Regions from separate parts of the Homo sapiens genome. Here region 2 is linked to region 1. The links come from fine-mapping of genetic effects on gene expression. Tissue or cell type: CD8 T cells. Region 1 holds a variant in brackets; the other region holds the start of a gene. All regions are shown on one strand. Distances are between the middles of the regions.

Region 1 (8,098 bases):
ATTTCCTTTCCTGCATTTGTCAGCATCGTTTTTCACACTAAAGATGAGGAGATCCATATTCCTAAGACATATACGCTTGGTCTGTAGAGACCCTCATTGCTCTAAGGCAGTGGTTGCCAGTTTTTTCCTTAAAGGGCCTAGTAGGACATAGTCCAGGCTTTGCCAGCCATACGGTCTGTCACAACTGAATTCTGCTGCCCTTGTAGCATGAAGGCAGCCAAACAATAGGTAAGGAATAAACATGGCTTTATTCGTGGCACTGAACTTTGAATTTCATATAATTTCACAACACAAAATTGTATTCTTTTGATTTTTTCCAATCATTTAAAAATGTCAAAACCATACTTAGCTGGAGGGCTGTAGGAAAACAGGTGGTGGGCTGGGTCTGGCACACAGGCAGCAGTTCGTGGACCCCTGTGCCAAGTGTTTGACGAAGCCCGTGAGGCAAACTGCACTTGCCGATAGAGGTTGCGCCACACAAGTGTCTTGGAAGCAATTTCTGGCTTGTCCTAGGCCTTAGAAAGTGCGTGCAGATCAGAGCCATGAAGTGAAGAGCAAAGCAAGTGACAGGCCTGTCTCAGGTTGTGCAACAGAACGTGTTTATGACAGATGTCCCCTGTCCAAGTGAGTGCACTGTGAGATAAGGGGCCGGTGACCTACCAATGCGTGTGGCAAGCCAGCCTGTTCCCCCTTGCAGGGGGAGGACACTCCTGCCCTTTATTCCAGGGAAGAGTATGTGTAAAAATATTCACCCTTGTTGGTATCAAATGCGCTGAAGAAAATAGGTATCGGGGTTTCAGCCATTCGGTCTCCTTGTTAGTGTTTCTAAGCCCTGATTTTCAGTTTCAAAACCTTGGTCTCTGAATCCGCAGTGATGGGTCTCTAGAGCGAATACATGGCAGGGCCGCCTTCCTCCGTACAGAAAGGGAGAATTGTGCTTGTGTGTTTTACCAAGCAGGACAGATGGGGCCGTCACCCCCGTGACCCGAGCCCTGCAAAACTGTGTTCTCACACGAAAACCCCCAGGCTCTGCGGGCAGCGTGGTCCTGCAGTGGCTAACACTGGGCGACCGGAGTCGTGTTCCGACCCCTAGGAGAGGAACCGGCTCGGTCGTGGTGCAGCCCGCGAGGAGACGACCTCAGGGCGTAATCCGACGCCGTGGGTTAAGACATCAGACCTCAGGCGCAGTGCAGCCGGCCCCTGGGGAGTCAAGGACCTTGATCGCCGATAACAAGTTGCCGTTGGCGGGCGCCGAGGGTGACCCGCGAGCGCGGCACCCGCCTCCCCGCCCCTAGCAGGACCCCCTCCGCCCCGCCCCCAGCCGGACCCCTCCCCGAGGCCCCGCCCCACCCGCGAGCCGCAGCCGCGGCCCCACAGCTTCTGGGGCTGGGGCCCCGGCAGCCGGGCAGGCCGGCCTGACCTCGACCTCCGCCGTGCGGGCCCGACCGGTGAGTCCAGCCCGGCAGTCGCAGGACCCGGCCGCCAGCCTCTCCCTCCACCTCTCCCTGCCCCCAGCGCCAGGCGCGGGCTGCGCTCGGTGGCGGCGGCGGGGCCCTCAGGCGGCCATGGCGGCAGGCGCCGGGGCCGGGTCCGCGCCGCGCTGGCTGAGGGCGCTGAGCGAGCCGCTGAGCGCGGCGCAGCTGCGGCGACTGGAGGAGCACCGCTACAGCGCGGCGGGCGTCTCGCTGCTCGAGCCGCCGCTGCAGCTCTACTGGACCTGGCTGCTCCAGTGGATCCCGCTCTGGATGGCCCCCAACTCCATCACCCTGCTGGGGCTCGCCGTCAACGTGGTCACCACGCTCGTGCTCATCTCCTACTGTCCCACGGCCACCGAAGAGGTAGGGCTGGCCGATCGCCCGAGCCGGGCCCCAGATGCGCTGCGGGCGGGTCGCTGGAGGCGCCGGGGGAAGGGCGGACCCACGCGCGGCTGAGCCTCTCCCGGGCCCCGGAGGGGCGGACTGGCCACTGCCCCGGGCGGTGTCCGCCCTGGGCCGCCTGGAGACTGTCACGCCACTATCCCAATCCCGTGACCATCCCAAGCCTCCCCTGGGCAGCGGAGGGGCTGTTAAGGTCACTGCCCCAGGTCCTATGTCCGCGCAGATCCTCCCCACGGCCGCGGACGGGCCGGAGGGCGCCTGCCCAGCCGCTATCCCATGCGGCGCCAACCTGTGAGACGGACCCGCGGTCGGGTGCTTTGCACACTGGGGACTGAACACCCCCATCTCCGTCCTGCCTGGCACAGGGACTTGTGCCAAGCCCGAGACGCCCTTTGAATACTTTCGTAACCGTTCGTTTCTGGAAGGTTGAGCTAGTGATCTTGAAATGACCGGTAGCACTGATCAAAGATGAGTTAAGAGGTAACTTCCTCTTTGCTTCATCGACTTTTTCAAGAAAAACAAACTGGAATGTTATCAAGGCAATAATTTTTTTGTCATCACAACCTAGGGATTAAAAAAACCCCAACATTTTATTAGCAATAATTACATTTGACCTTTGTACAAAATAAGGAGTAAATATAGGCTTTGGATAGCTGTTCATCAGAAGCACCCTTTGGGCTGAGTGTGGAGGGATAGGGGGCAGAGTGGAGTTCACTCCCATCTATAGTTTATACTACGTGGGATAAATATTACATTGCACATTCTGTGACATTACTTTCTATTCTCTGCTCCAAATAGTGAAGTCCCTTTATAATCATTTGAGTGTAGGCCTTGTGGAGGACTCATGGAGGTTGAGGTTGGATTAACAGAAATACAGTGGAAATATTTCATGCCCTCCATGCATGCATCCATTTTGTTGTTGTTTTTGAGACAGGGGTTTACTCTGTCACCCAGGCTGGAGTGCCGTGCCGTGGCTCGATCTCGGCTCACTGCAACCTCCGCCTTCAGGGTTCAAGCGATTCTTCTGCCTCAGCCTTCCAAGTAGCTGGGATTACAGGCGCGTGCCACCACGGCCGACTCACTTTTGTGTTTTTAGTAGATACAAGGTTTCACCATGTTGGCCAGGCTCATGCATCCTTTAAAAACAAAAATTTGATCGAGCCTACATTTTAAAATATCTTGTCAATGGATTGGTATGCTTATTATGTATTTCTTTTCTTTTTTTTTTTTTTGAGACAGAGTCTCGCTCTGTCACCCAGGCTGGAGGGCAATGTGGTGATCTCGGCTCACTGCAACCTCTGCCTCCTGGGTTCAAGCGATTCCCTTGCCTCAGCCTCCTGAATAGCTGGGACTACACGTGCCTGCCACCACGCCCGGCTAATTTTTGTATTTTTAGTAGAGACGGGGTTTCACCATATTGGCCAGGCTGGTCTCGAACTCCTGACCTCAAGTGATCCGCCTGCCTCGGCCTCCCAAAGTGCTGGTATTTACAGGAGTGAGCCACTGCGCCAGGCTTATTATATATTTCTTAATAGACATTCCCATTGTCATTTGCCATTGCTATTCATTTACATATTACATATGAAAAAGTAAGCTGCTTTAGTTTTTGGCTGTTTTGCTGCCTGTTTCTAGAATTTACCAGAGGGAGTGTGTTAGAATGAAAGGATAGCTGGGTTGGAAGTGGAGGTCTTGGTTTCTAACTGGCTCTTCCACCACAGACCTGCTGGGTCTGTGTTCCCACAGATACAATAGAAAATAATGCCTGCCAAAACAACTTGACAAGGATGCAGTGAGGACCAAATGATATATATGCAGATAAATGTAAAAGATTGCGATGTGCCTAACAAATTAAAAATATCACTCAACACATTAAAAATATTACTGTTATCAG[A/G]CAACATCCTGAAAACACATAATAAAATTTAGTTTTGATTGGGTCCAGATTTAGCTAACAGCATTTGAATGTTTCTGATATTGGCCAGTTAAGTTGTGGACTCTTCAATGTTATTATTAATTTAAGAAGCATTTGTTGAACACTTAGAAAGAGCAGGGCTTACCAAAAAAGTCAAGAGCTTCTGCCTAGGGAAGTAAAGGGAGGCCTGATGGAAGAGGTACGTTTATGATTAATTAGTTTTTAGGATCAGCCTCATGTGAAAAAAAAAAAAAAAAGGGTGGAGGGTGGGGATTGGAGGCATTTAAAAATAAAGTGCAAAATCAAATGGCCCAAGAAGGGTAAATGAGAGTTAAAAACAAGAGTTTCTGAAATGTATGTCACTAGAACCTTCATATGCTTCTGAGTGACTGATGCAGGGAGGGGAAACGCCATTACAGGATCCACATTGCTTGTTTGGTGAAAGCCCAGCAACAGTGTGAAGAGTGTAGCAGTTTCTGGCTATTTTCTCTTAAGTTCATAGAACTAGCAAATGACTGGATCAGGTAGGATTCAGATCTAAGTTGGTATGACTTCAAAAATAAAAAGATCCTATGTTTTACATAATACAAATATGTAAAGTGCTTTCACATCCATGGTTGCATTTGTGTCTTGTTATCAGCCAAAGAGGTTAGCAAGTTTTCCGCTTCCTACAATGGCCCTCCTACCACCTCAGTATTTCTTCTATCCATCTATCCTGAAGTAACAGTAGTATATGTTTTCATAAGAGGAAATTGAAGCCCAGAGATGTCAAGTGACTTTCAACTGGCTTGGGACTTGTTTTCTGATTCTCAGACTTAAGAATTCTTAGTGTTTTTTTCAGACTTGACAGATTGCTTCCAGAAAGAGTCAGCAAAAACACATAAGGTTTTTCGATTTAGATGCTTGGGCTTATCTACTCATATAGGCTTTAATACTGAGTGCATGAATAATAACATTTGATACGTTTTTAAGCATGATGCTAATTTCTAGAACATGACTGGGGATAAAGGGAAACTAATAGAAAAAAGTTGTGATTTATATTTAGCTTCTGCAAACTGCTTTTCAAGCCATCATTTCCAATAAGGAACTTTGTACTCCAGCCAAATTGAACTTCTTACTATAACAAGGATTTCTCTCCTTCTTATCCCTCTCTTTTCCCCTTCCTCTTCCTTTCTTCTGTACCAGTTATCCAACTATGTACCCATCTTTCAATACCCAATTCTAACACTATATCCTTATGAAAGTTATCTTCCTTTTCCTAAGTCAAATCAACCACTCTGAATTCCCATGATAATGACAATAACTAACTTTTACTGGATTTTTACTGTGTATCAGGGATGATTTTAAGTCACTTTTATTCTTTCATTGACTCCTCTCAACAACCTTATGAATAAGGTACTATTAGTATCATCATTTTATAGATGAGGAAACTGAAGGAAAATTAACCTCTTCTAGAGTGACATACCTTTAAGTGGGGGCCAGGATTCCAAGCCAGAAGCTATGCTTCCTTTGTAGGGCTTTGTAGCTCTCCTGTGGATCTTTACCGTTTTATTTTGGTTGTCTGTGTCCTTATTGAGCAGGACAACTTACCAGATTTTAAGTTCAGACAGCAATTGCTCGTTCATTTGTATAATCTCTATAGCACAGTGCTTTACATCAAACAGATGCTTATAATTTTGCATCAAACAGATGCAATTATTTAGAAAACAAACATTTGTTTGTTTTCTAAATTATTGGCTGCAGGAATGAAATAACACAATGTGATGTCAAGAGATGATGTTTTTCAACCCTTATTCAGTTTTAGCTGTTCTTGGGTTAAATACCTAGCAATTGTTTGGCCTTGGTAGTTTTAAGTAGAGTAAGCAAGTGTTAGGGCAAATGGAGAAAACAAGAACTTTGTCTCCTCACTTTGATGAAGCAGTTCTATCTGAACATCACCCTAAGTAGGTAGTCCCTGGCCCCCATTCCTTGGCTACCTAATCTTAAAATAGAATCACAGATTCTTAGAGTTTGGAAGGACCTTAGAGATTATTTAATGTAACTCCTACATTTATATATGTGATAACCCAGTGATTTGAATCTAGTTCTTCTAACTCCAGCCTAGTAGCAGTCTCTCCTACTAACTCCATGCACTTGTGTTTGACTGGTATAAACTGTTACTCCATTCTCTATTACATATCTGATTAAATGTTTCTGCCCTGTCTTCGTGATCTGTGCATATAAATCCATGTCAGTGTCTTTATTAAGAATATGTTTATGGCAGGGACAAGTGCCTAGCTTAAGGTCAGGTCAAAGGGCATTAATTAATGCATTTCTTGTGTTTATGATGATAAAGAGTTGAACTGAAAAGTAAGTATACCTGAGCATGCCAGAAACACCTTAAGAAATGGTTTATTCTCTGTTTAAATAACTTATTTAAATAACTCATATTTTAAACACAGAATAAACCATTTCTTAAGGTTATCTTTGTACTACATATTGCCTTTGTATTACATATTATAGAGTTATTTTGGGGGGAATAATAGAAAGAAAAGGAAATAACCTTTAGATTCCTACTCAGACTTTTTTTTATAGGTTTGATTTCTTTGAGATCTAGTATATTTCCTTTTTAAGCACTCTTTTACTCCCACTTTTTTTAAACCAGCTCAGTAACTTTTCAAGCATCATTTATTAAGGCAGGACTCTTGTAAGGGCGTGACCTCTCTCATTAAAACAAAATGTGAACTCCAGATTTCCAGGAGATAGAAGCAGGGAGGGACTTAGGGTGAGGCAAGCCAGGACTCAAAATTTAAGGAGGCCTTTGCAGGACTGTGAGAATGAATGTCTCCTTAACTTCTGCAGCCATGGTGCCTCCCTGCCTCACCCTTAGTCCCCGGCCATCTAGAAGGAGACTCTTCAGATAATGTGGAGGTAGCTTCCCTTGATTCCTATGGCTTCACTATACTTAATTCCTAACGAATAAAACTGTTTCTCCTTTCAAATTCTGGTTCAAGTGTGGATAAAACGTGGCATCGTGGTATTTAGAAGAAGCTTTGAATTTTCCTCCTGGTGCATTTGATTGGGGTAGAAGGCTACAACCAGACCACTTGGGTTTTGCGAAGTTGAAGAACAGAACAGAAGCAACCCAGTACAGTTGATGTGGATGATAGATTTGGCCTCAGGGGAATTCTCTTCACACCCCTCTCTCTTTTTGTTCCCCTTAGCACAGTGACAGGCTGGCATTTTCAACAAGAACCCTAATAAGTATTAAAGAAGAAAGAAAACCAAAATGATTCACACTGAATATAAAAATAAAGGCCAGCTTTCAAAGTACAGATTTATCAGGTCATGAGAAAACCCCATTGGCCCTGAAGTGCTGGTTTAACTGCATTTATGTGCGATGTCTGTCTGGTTTCCTTTGCCGCAGCTTATAACCTGCCTAATTTCCTAAAAATGGATGTGCTCTTCTCAAATGCTGGTTCCTAAACTGAGCCAAGACCAAAGGTCTGGGTCGAAAGCAGTGAGCCCCTAGGGCCTTCCTCATTGGCTTGGCAGAGAGTGGTTTTACCTTTTCTGACCACCAAGGCTCCTCTGGAGCCTCCCCAGGCCTCAGGTGGGAACCCTCCCTCCGTAAACAAAGAAGCACCCTCCCCATCACAGGCTCCCAGTAAACAATGTCATAAGCACATCTTAGGCACTTATTGGGTTAGAGCAGTTGCAGGAATGGAGCAATCAGTCATTTCTACTTCTTATGTCTTCCAGAGTCAGGTTAGCAGTCTATTAGAAACTCCATAAATTCTCTTTTAAAAATCGTAGAATCTCTTGTGATCCCTGGAATAATGAAATGAAAAAAAAAATCTTAAGAGTCACCTGTCTGGGTAGAAAGTCTACCTTTAACAGCATACTCGCATTACATGTTTTTCACATATGCACAATATGTCTTCTAATGTCCTTTCTTCCTATGTCTTAGAAATGCAGTTTCTATTTTTATGAAGAAAGAAGTCAATGTTTGGATAATTGAAATCTTCTTGTTACCAGCTGACCTAATGGTTATTGGTTATCTAATTCCCTTCTGCATAGATGTCAATTCATCCAAGGCCATTTCAAGCAAAGAGGTTTTTTTGTTTTGTTTTTGTTTTTTTTCAGTATAAAAATTTACGTAATGAACATTGTATAGTTCTAGTATTTCCTAGTTTGGGAAGATTTTTTCTTTTATATATTATCTATACTTGCTTTTATTTACTATTTTTCTTTATGTCAACTTTAAATCAACTCTTTTAAAAACTTAGACTCTTACTCTGACTTAATATTTATAAAATCATAGATATGATAT
Region 2 (8,096 bases), 130 kb after region 1:
TTTTGTACCTTATTTGGCAACTAAACTTGACCTGCCCTGTACTTATTTGGTGGCAAAATGACTAAACTGACTTGAGGCTAGGTATAGTCTGTATTTTCCTGAGTGTGAAGAATTGTGGACTTGTATATAAATGGTTCGATTAAATAATGATGGCCCTGAAATAATAAATTTTAACTCAAAAACACGTTTTAAAATCTATACAGTAGCAACTAACAGAGAACAAATTATTTAAAAACCAGAAGTTTCTAAGCTAAAAAGGATCTTAAGAGCAGTCAATCTAGTAACACCATTTGTGGAGCTAACTAATTTACAATAGACTGATTACCTGCTACCTACAGTCCAAGGCAATGCATTTTTGTGACCACTAGTCCCCATTCTGAAGGCTCTCCCTGTGGGAGTTGTTTTTTTTTTTTTTTTTTTTTTTTTTTTGAGACCAGGTCTACCAGGCTGGAGTGCATGGCACAATCACAGGCACTGCACCTCAAACTCCTGGGCTCAAGCAACACTCCTGCCACAGCCTCCTGCCTCCTGAGCAGCTGGGACTACAGGCATGTGCCACCACACCTAGCTAACTTTTTTTATTTATGTATTTATTTTTGAGACAAGGTTTCACTCTGTCACCCAGGCTTAAGTGCAGTGGTGCAATCACGGCTCATGCAGCCTCAACCACCAGGGCTCAAGTGATCCTCCCACCCCAGTCTCCCAAGCAACTGGGACTACTCTACTTTTTTTGCAGAGATAGGGTTTCGCCATGTTGCCCAGGCTGGTCTCAAACTCCTGAGCTCAAGCAATTCTCCTGCCTCGGCCTGCCAAAGTGCTGGGATTACAGGTGTGAGCCACCACGCCCAGCCTTTATTTTTATTTTTTTTTGTAGAGACAGGGTCTCCTTTGTTTCCCAGGCTTGTCCAACTCCTGACTTCAAGCAATCCTCCAGCCTTAGTCTCCCAAAGTCCTGGGATTACAGGCATGAGCCACCTCACCCAGCTTGTTTTGTTTGATACTTCCTTCCCTCAATTCTACTTCTCGAAGTTTGGATGAATATAGAAAAGGCTTATCAAAATACAGCATCAAATACCTGTTATATTGAGAGGAGGAGACGATAACAAATTTACAGTTAACAATGATCTTCTGAGGGCCAGGCACAGTGGCTCGCACCTATAATCCCAGCATTTTGGGAGGCCAAGGCAGGCGGATCACCTAAGGTCCAGAGTTTGAGACCAGCCTGGCCAACATGGTGAAACCCTGTCTCTACTAAAAATACAAAAACTTAGTCTAGCGTGATGGCGGGTGCCTATAATCCCAGCTACTCCGGAGGGTGGGGCAGGGAAAATTACTTGAACCTGGAAGGTGGAGGTTGCAGTGAGCTGAGATCACCCCACTGCACTCCAGCGTGGGCAAGAGTGAGACTCTATCTCAAAACAAAACAAAAAAAACAATGATCTTCTTAGTCCAAAAGGACTTACAATTAGTGAGCTTACAATCCATTACAATTAGTGAGATTATTAACAAGTTGGTAATATTAACTATATGATCAAAGTATTCTGATTCAAGGATATATTTCAAAATAAGGTTTAAGGACATAAAAGAGTTGATAATATAATAGCAGCAGTAGCCATGACCATTTAATGAGGGTCTGTTATGTAGTAGGAACTGTGTGAGGTGCTTTACATACCCATCTTATTTAATCCTCATCAACCCTGCAAGGAAGGTAATCTGGCCTCCATTTCAAAGATAAGGAAGCTCAGAGAGGTTAAATATCCTTCCCAAGATCAGACAAGGAACAGCCTGGGCTGTTTGAGAAACCATAAAAAGGGGTGCTCAAGAGCACAGCTTAGGCTGGTCGTGGTGGCTCACGCCTGTAATCCCATGGGAGACCAAAGCAAGCGAATCATGAGGTCAGGAGTTCGAGACCAGTCTGGCCAACATAGTGAAACCCCATCTCTACTAAAAATACAAAAAATTAGCCAGGTGTGGTGGCACGCACCTGTAATCCCAGCTACTTGGGAGGCTGAGACATGAGAATCACGTGAACCCAGGAGGCGAGACATGAGAATCACGTGAACCCAGGAGGCAGAGGTTGCAGTGAGCCGAGATTGCGCCATTGCACTCCAGCTTGGGTGACAGTGTGAGACTCCATCTCAAAAAACAAACAAAAAAAAAAGCACAGCTCTGAGCCAGCCTGGCTTGGTTTGAAGCCCAGCTCTGCCACAAATTAGCTGGATTCTAATGCAAATGCATCCATTTCATCACCTATAAAATGGTTATAATAATAGCACCTATCCCACAGGGGTGATGTTGTGAGGATTAAATCAGTTAACATATGTAAAGCAATTAAGAGAGTGCCTGATACCTGTTAAGACCAATATAAGTATTAGCTATTATTATGATCATTATCAACTGGAGTCAGCAATCAAGGCCAAATCTGCCTAATCATGCAGCTCCTCTTTTCCATTATGCCTTACAAGTTAACCACAGGCCAGCTGCCTTCACCTCTCATGACACCTGTTGGCACTGTCTGCCTCTCATTTCTCTTGTCTGTTCCAAACCTTATGATCTGTGGCCATTTCAGGACTGCAACAAAATGTCTCTCTTTTGGTAAACAGCCAAGCATGGAATGAAAGCAAAAAGAAAAGGATATAAAATGAAAAATTCGGGCCAGGTGCGGTGGCTTACACCTGTAATCCCAACACTTTGGGAGGCCAAGGCAGGCAGATCACTTGAGGTCAGAAGTTTGAGACCAGCCTGGCCAACATAGTGAAACTCCATCTCTACTAAAAATACAAAAATTAGCTGTGCATGGTGGTACGCGCCTGTAGTCCCAGCTACTCAGGAGGCTGAGGTAGGAGAATTTCTTGAACCTGAGAGGTAGAGGTTGCAATGAGCCGAGATGGAGCCACTGCATTCCAGCCTGGGCAACAGAGCAAGACTCTGTCTCAAAAAAATAAAATAAAATGAAGAATTCTAACACCTGATGCCTTTAAGTCATCTTCACACTGCATGGGACTTAATAAACAGTTAACTCAAAATTAATCAAGGCCAAAAAAATCACACAAAAGCAATAAGGCACCTAACTACACACAGATACATTAAGTTGCAACACATGAAACAAAGACGAGCAAGTACTATAATATTAAGTACATATTTCACACTTACAAATCTGGAGCTTTCTCACCCTTATGGTAAGACATTTTTTCCCAGCCTCTAGAACCAAGAACTACTAAAAAAGTACATGCTCAGAATTCATGCCATATAATTTAGCCATTAAACAAACACTTGCACTGCATTCTCTGGCAGTACCTGGCACTGTGCTTGGGCCAGGGTTACAGTATTTACAGACAGCACCTTCTCTTACGGAGCTTACAATCCAGCATGGGTAAAGACTTCAAGCAAATGTATACTGTGGCATTTCTAAAAACTACTCTGTTAAATTTTAAAACCTTTTGTAACCTCCTACCAAAAAAAAAAAAAAAAAAGAAAAAGAAAAAAACTAAAACTAAGGAACAGATTTCAAACCACTTAAAAATACAGCTTTCCTCCCCGTTGCTAAAAGTGGCTTTCTTGGGCCAGGTGCGGTAGCTCATGCCTGTAACCCCAGCACTTTAGAAAGCCAAGAAGGGAGGATCACTTGAGCCCAGGACTTCCAGACCAACCTGGGCAACATAGGGAGACCTCCGTCTCTATTTTTAAAAAACGGTGGGCGAGGGAGCAATATCTAAAATCACATACATGCCTTTTTCCAGTTCTGACTTGCTCATAGTCTCTGCACACGTTTATGATAAAGAATACTGTATTTGGCCGGGAGCGGTGGCTCACGCCTGTAATCCCAGCACTCGGGGACGCCGAGACAGGGCGATCGCCTGAGCTCAGGAGTTCGAGACCAGCCTGGGCAACATGGCAAAACCCCGTCTCTAATAATGAAAAAATACATACTGTATCGGGGCATCGCGGGGCACGGCGAGGGCAGTGCAGGGTCGAGGCGCCCGGTCCAGGCTGCGGCGCCGCTACTCACCTCTCCGAACTGGAAGGCGGAGACGATGGTGACAACGACGCCCAAGAAGCACACGTAGAGCCCATACCTGTGGGACAGGCAGGTATAGGTCTGTCTCTGCAGGAGCTTGAACAGCATCACCCCTTCACCGCCACGCCACGCCCCGAGGAGCCTGAGCCGCCGCCGCCGCCGCCGCCGCCTCAGCGAGCCGCCATTCAGGGGCCCCGGTCGGGCCGCCGCGCGCAGGTCACAGCCTCCGGGCGCCGCTCATTGCAGCTCCGGCGACGGACGCCCGCTCGGCTCCGCGCCGCGGCCGCCGCTTCCGGGAGCCGGGAGCCCACGCCCTCGGCGCGGCGGAGGCGGACCTGCGGCCGGCGAGGCGGCCGGCGCCGCCCGGGTCTGGCCGGGCGAGAGGCGGCTGCGGCGGCGGCGGGGTCTCCAGCGCCACCTGGAGGACGGAGGGGCATAGGGAAGGTGCGCGCCCTCCCCACCTGCGCTTGCGCAGCGGGCCCTGAGGGCTGGGCTGGGAGGGGCGGAGCTGAGCTGGGATCCACTTACCCGGTTGGGCAGGCGACCAAGAGAAAACTGCCCCCTGCGTCGAGACTGTGCCATAGACGGTACTATAATGCCATGAATATTTTTGTGCATAAAACCTTCTCTGCACTTAGCATTCTCTGCAGAGTGCTAAAAGGAGATGCTGTATGTGGCTCCTTTCCTCCAACCCCCAACTATATTGTTTGAAAGAGGAAACCTTTGGGTTAAATCTGCCAAAACCGAATTTCGTTCATTCATTTAGTCGTTAAATATGTAATTTGTGCCTGTTAGGTGGCATAGTGCTTGGTGTCAGGTATTCAAAAATGAACTAGACCTGGCTACTGTTCTCAGAGAGTCTAGTGGGGGAGATAAACATGTAAACCACTAAATACAAGAGTTGTTATGATAGAAATCATGCGATGAACTGGAGGGGAACCAGCTCAGGGGTGGCCAGGTAATCCGACTTTGACAGCAGGTTTTTCCCACGAGATCCTTTCCTTGGTGCCTCTGATTTACGAAAGGGAGATCTTTTTCTTAATCCCAATGCACCCTAGTCAATAAGATTTTTTTCCTAGTCACCCTGGGAAACAATACACTTATCTAATGTTGCCATCATTCAAAGCATTTTTAAAAATATCTTGGGAACCAGCTTCAGGAAATACTCAAATTCGCACCCTCAGTTTGATGGTCAGGTGGAATTAACAGACTTGCAAAAGGGGTTAGCTTCACTCCAATCCAAGGCAAGATTTTTTACACTTTGCAGTCACTTCTTTTAATCCTTCTTTTAAAAAAGATGATTGATATATGCTATATGTACATGGCAAAAGATTATTGCAGTTGTACAAGACACATATAGTTCTGAGGTCTTTTCAAGCATGATAACAGATCTGAGGACTTAATCAGAAGGGGTAAAAAAGCATGGTAACAGATATAAAAACATCTGCCACTCAACAGGACTCTCAGGATAATGGCCAACATTTATGTAGCATCTGCCATGTGCCCAGCTCATCTAATCCTCACAATAATCTTATAATGGAGATACCATTATTATCCCCATTCTACAGATCAAGAAACTGTGATGAAAAAAAGTAACTATCTAACATCACACAAATAGTAAATGACAGAATTGAGATTTGAACCAGGTACTTAGGCTGTAGAACAGGGCCAAGATTAGGGGAAGGTACTGTGAAATGAGTCATGCAAGTTTGGAGTGAGATTCTGTCTTTGTTTATAGTTTTGATATCGGGGCTGGGTGTGGTGGCTCATGCATGTAATCCCAATACTTTGGGAGGTCAATGTGGGAGGATAGCTTGAGCCCAGGAGTCTGGGAGCCCAGAAGTTTGAGACCAGCCTGGGTAACAGACCCTGTTCCTATTAAAATAAAAAAAAAATTTAAAACGTAAAATAAAACATAAAGTTTGGGTGTTTTGCTTTTCATGGATATTCTTCAGTAATGTTTTTTGTTTTTTTTGTTTTTTGGGTTTTTTTTTTTTTTTTGAGACAGAGTCTTGCTCTGTTGCCCAGGCTGGGTTGCAGTGGCGTGATCTCAGCTCACTGCAACATCCGCCTCCTGGCTTCAAGCAATTCTCCTGACTCAGCCTCCTGAGTAGCTGGGATTACAGGCACATGCCACCACCCCCGGCTAATTTTTGCATTTTTAGTAGAGATGGGGTTTCAGCATCTTGGTCAGGCTGGTCTTGAACTCCTGACCTCAAGTGATTCACCTGCCTTGACCTCCCAAAGTGCTAGGATTACAAGCATGAGCCACTGCGCCCAACCATTAATTTTGATTTTTTAAAAATATTGCATTAGGCTGGGCACGGTGGCTCACGCCTATAATCCCAGCACTTTGGGAGGCTGAGGCGAGTGGATCACCTGAGGTCAGGAGTCTGAGACCAGCCTGACCAACATGGAGAAACCCCATCTCTACTAAAAATACAAAATTAGCAGGGCATGGTGGCACATGCCTGTAATCCCAGCTACTCAGGAAGCTGAGGCAGGAGAATCACTTGAACCCGGGAGGCAGAGGTTGCGGTCAGCCGAGATCGTGCCATTGCACTCCAGCCTGGGCAACAAGAGTGAAACTCCATCTAATAAAAAAAAAAAAAAAAATATATATATATAGCATTAAAATATTATTCCTCTTGATTAGTGAGTTTTTTGGAGTTCCCTCGGATTTTCCACCCAAGACAAGTGCTTCACTGTCCTCACTTTAGTCCTAGCCTTGCCTAGAACCTGTCCTTCTTAAAAAGTATGCTTTGTTGTAGTATGAATTACCCTTAAATTTTTCCTTTATCTTTAGGCTCCAACTAGACAGCCTCAAGGGAGGTCAGGAGCATTGTCTAAGTCCTTTCTTCTAGAGAACTTGCTCTTGTTCACTCCCTTTTCCCCCTCCTCAGGCAGTATGGTTGAACTTAAATAAAATAAATGTGGGTGCAATATGATATACCTGTAGTAGCTACCTTATACAGTTAGGAGGGTTATGTAAAATAACACATGAAAATGCTCAAGTGCCTGCGACATTTTTAGTGTTGGAAAAATTTAAGAAAATTAACATTTAGCCTTGTTCTGAAAGCAATGAGGTTTTCAGCAGGAGAATTAACTGATTAAATATGCACTTCAAGAACATTAGTAGTATGTAAATGCATAAGTTGTGGAAATTATTTTTTTAAATTTTTTGTAGAGACAGGGTCTCACTATGTTGCCCAGGCTGGTGTTGAACTTCTGGGCTCAAGCAATCCTCCCACTTTGGCCTCCCAACATGCTGGGAGCCACCTCACCTGGCCTGGAAATGATTTTAAACTCTCCACATCTGAACAGTGGAAAAAATATGCAGTAGCATCCCATTTATCTGGAAATATTTTATCTGGCAACCTAAAAGAGCCAGAAAAGCCAAAAGATCAAAAAGGATTCCCAGGAACCCAGTGAAACCCCTGAGTTTTGCTTTTAGAAGAACCCCACAGTCCCTCTCAAAATCTGATAAATATAATTCCGAGAAACTGTCATCTGGGTTCTCAGTCTATAGCAGATAAATAAATAAATAAAGAGGTCCCTTTCCTGCCTTTCTCCCAAACATGAAGTAACTAGAGAAAAAAATGATGTAGAAAATATTTTTTAAAAAAGTCAAATGAATTCCAAAAATGTAATCATCTTCACATCAATGATGTAGATATCTGTAAGAGCAGAGAGATAGAGTGAAGGCAACAGTACCTCCAAGTACAGTCAGTAGGCTAATATGGCATATAGTGGTGAGCTCAATCTATGAGAAAAGTTTAAGTAATGGTTAGTGTTTATTCAGCATTTGTGAATGAATGCTTTGTGCTGGGCATTTTATTGGACATTGAGTCTATCTCGTAATGACTTAGGTACCCCAATACTTGGGTACCAAGAAAGACATGGTCCCTGCTTTTGTGGGATTTACACTCTGGAGGGGCATATATATATTGGATTAGTATTGTGAGGGGCACTAACCTAGCCTGGGAGGTCAGGGATGGCTTCCTGGAGGAGGTGATACTAAAGATTGAGCTGGAGGACTCAAGATGTGGGGTGGGAAGGGAACTATGTTCCAGGCAAG

What was found. PIP is the estimated chance that this variant, and not a neighbour inherited with it, causes the effect.
Region 2: GNPTAB starts here. The variant in region 1 is fine-mapped to the expression of GNPTAB in CD8 T cells (CEDAR, PIP 0.95).

What each region holds. Positions count from the first base shown.
Region 1 is chr12:101,696,297-101,704,394 of GRCh38, forward strand. It overlaps CHPT1 (choline phosphotransferase 1), which reads left to right and starts at 1,344. Exons shown (of 9, transcript NM_020244.3): 1 at 1,344-1,838. The coding sequence starts at 1,566. RefSeq lists an enhancer at 818-1,067 and silencers at 1,288-1,627, 1,888-2,077. The variant A/G (reference allele first, on the strand shown) is at 3,769.
Region 2 is chr12:101,826,550-101,834,645 of GRCh38, forward strand. GNPTAB (N-acetylglucosamine-1-phosphate transferase subunits alpha and beta) reads right to left here and starts at 4,410. Exons shown (of 21, transcript NM_024312.5): 1 at 4,010-4,410. The coding sequence starts at 4,126. RefSeq lists silencers at 3,542-3,836, 4,193-4,592.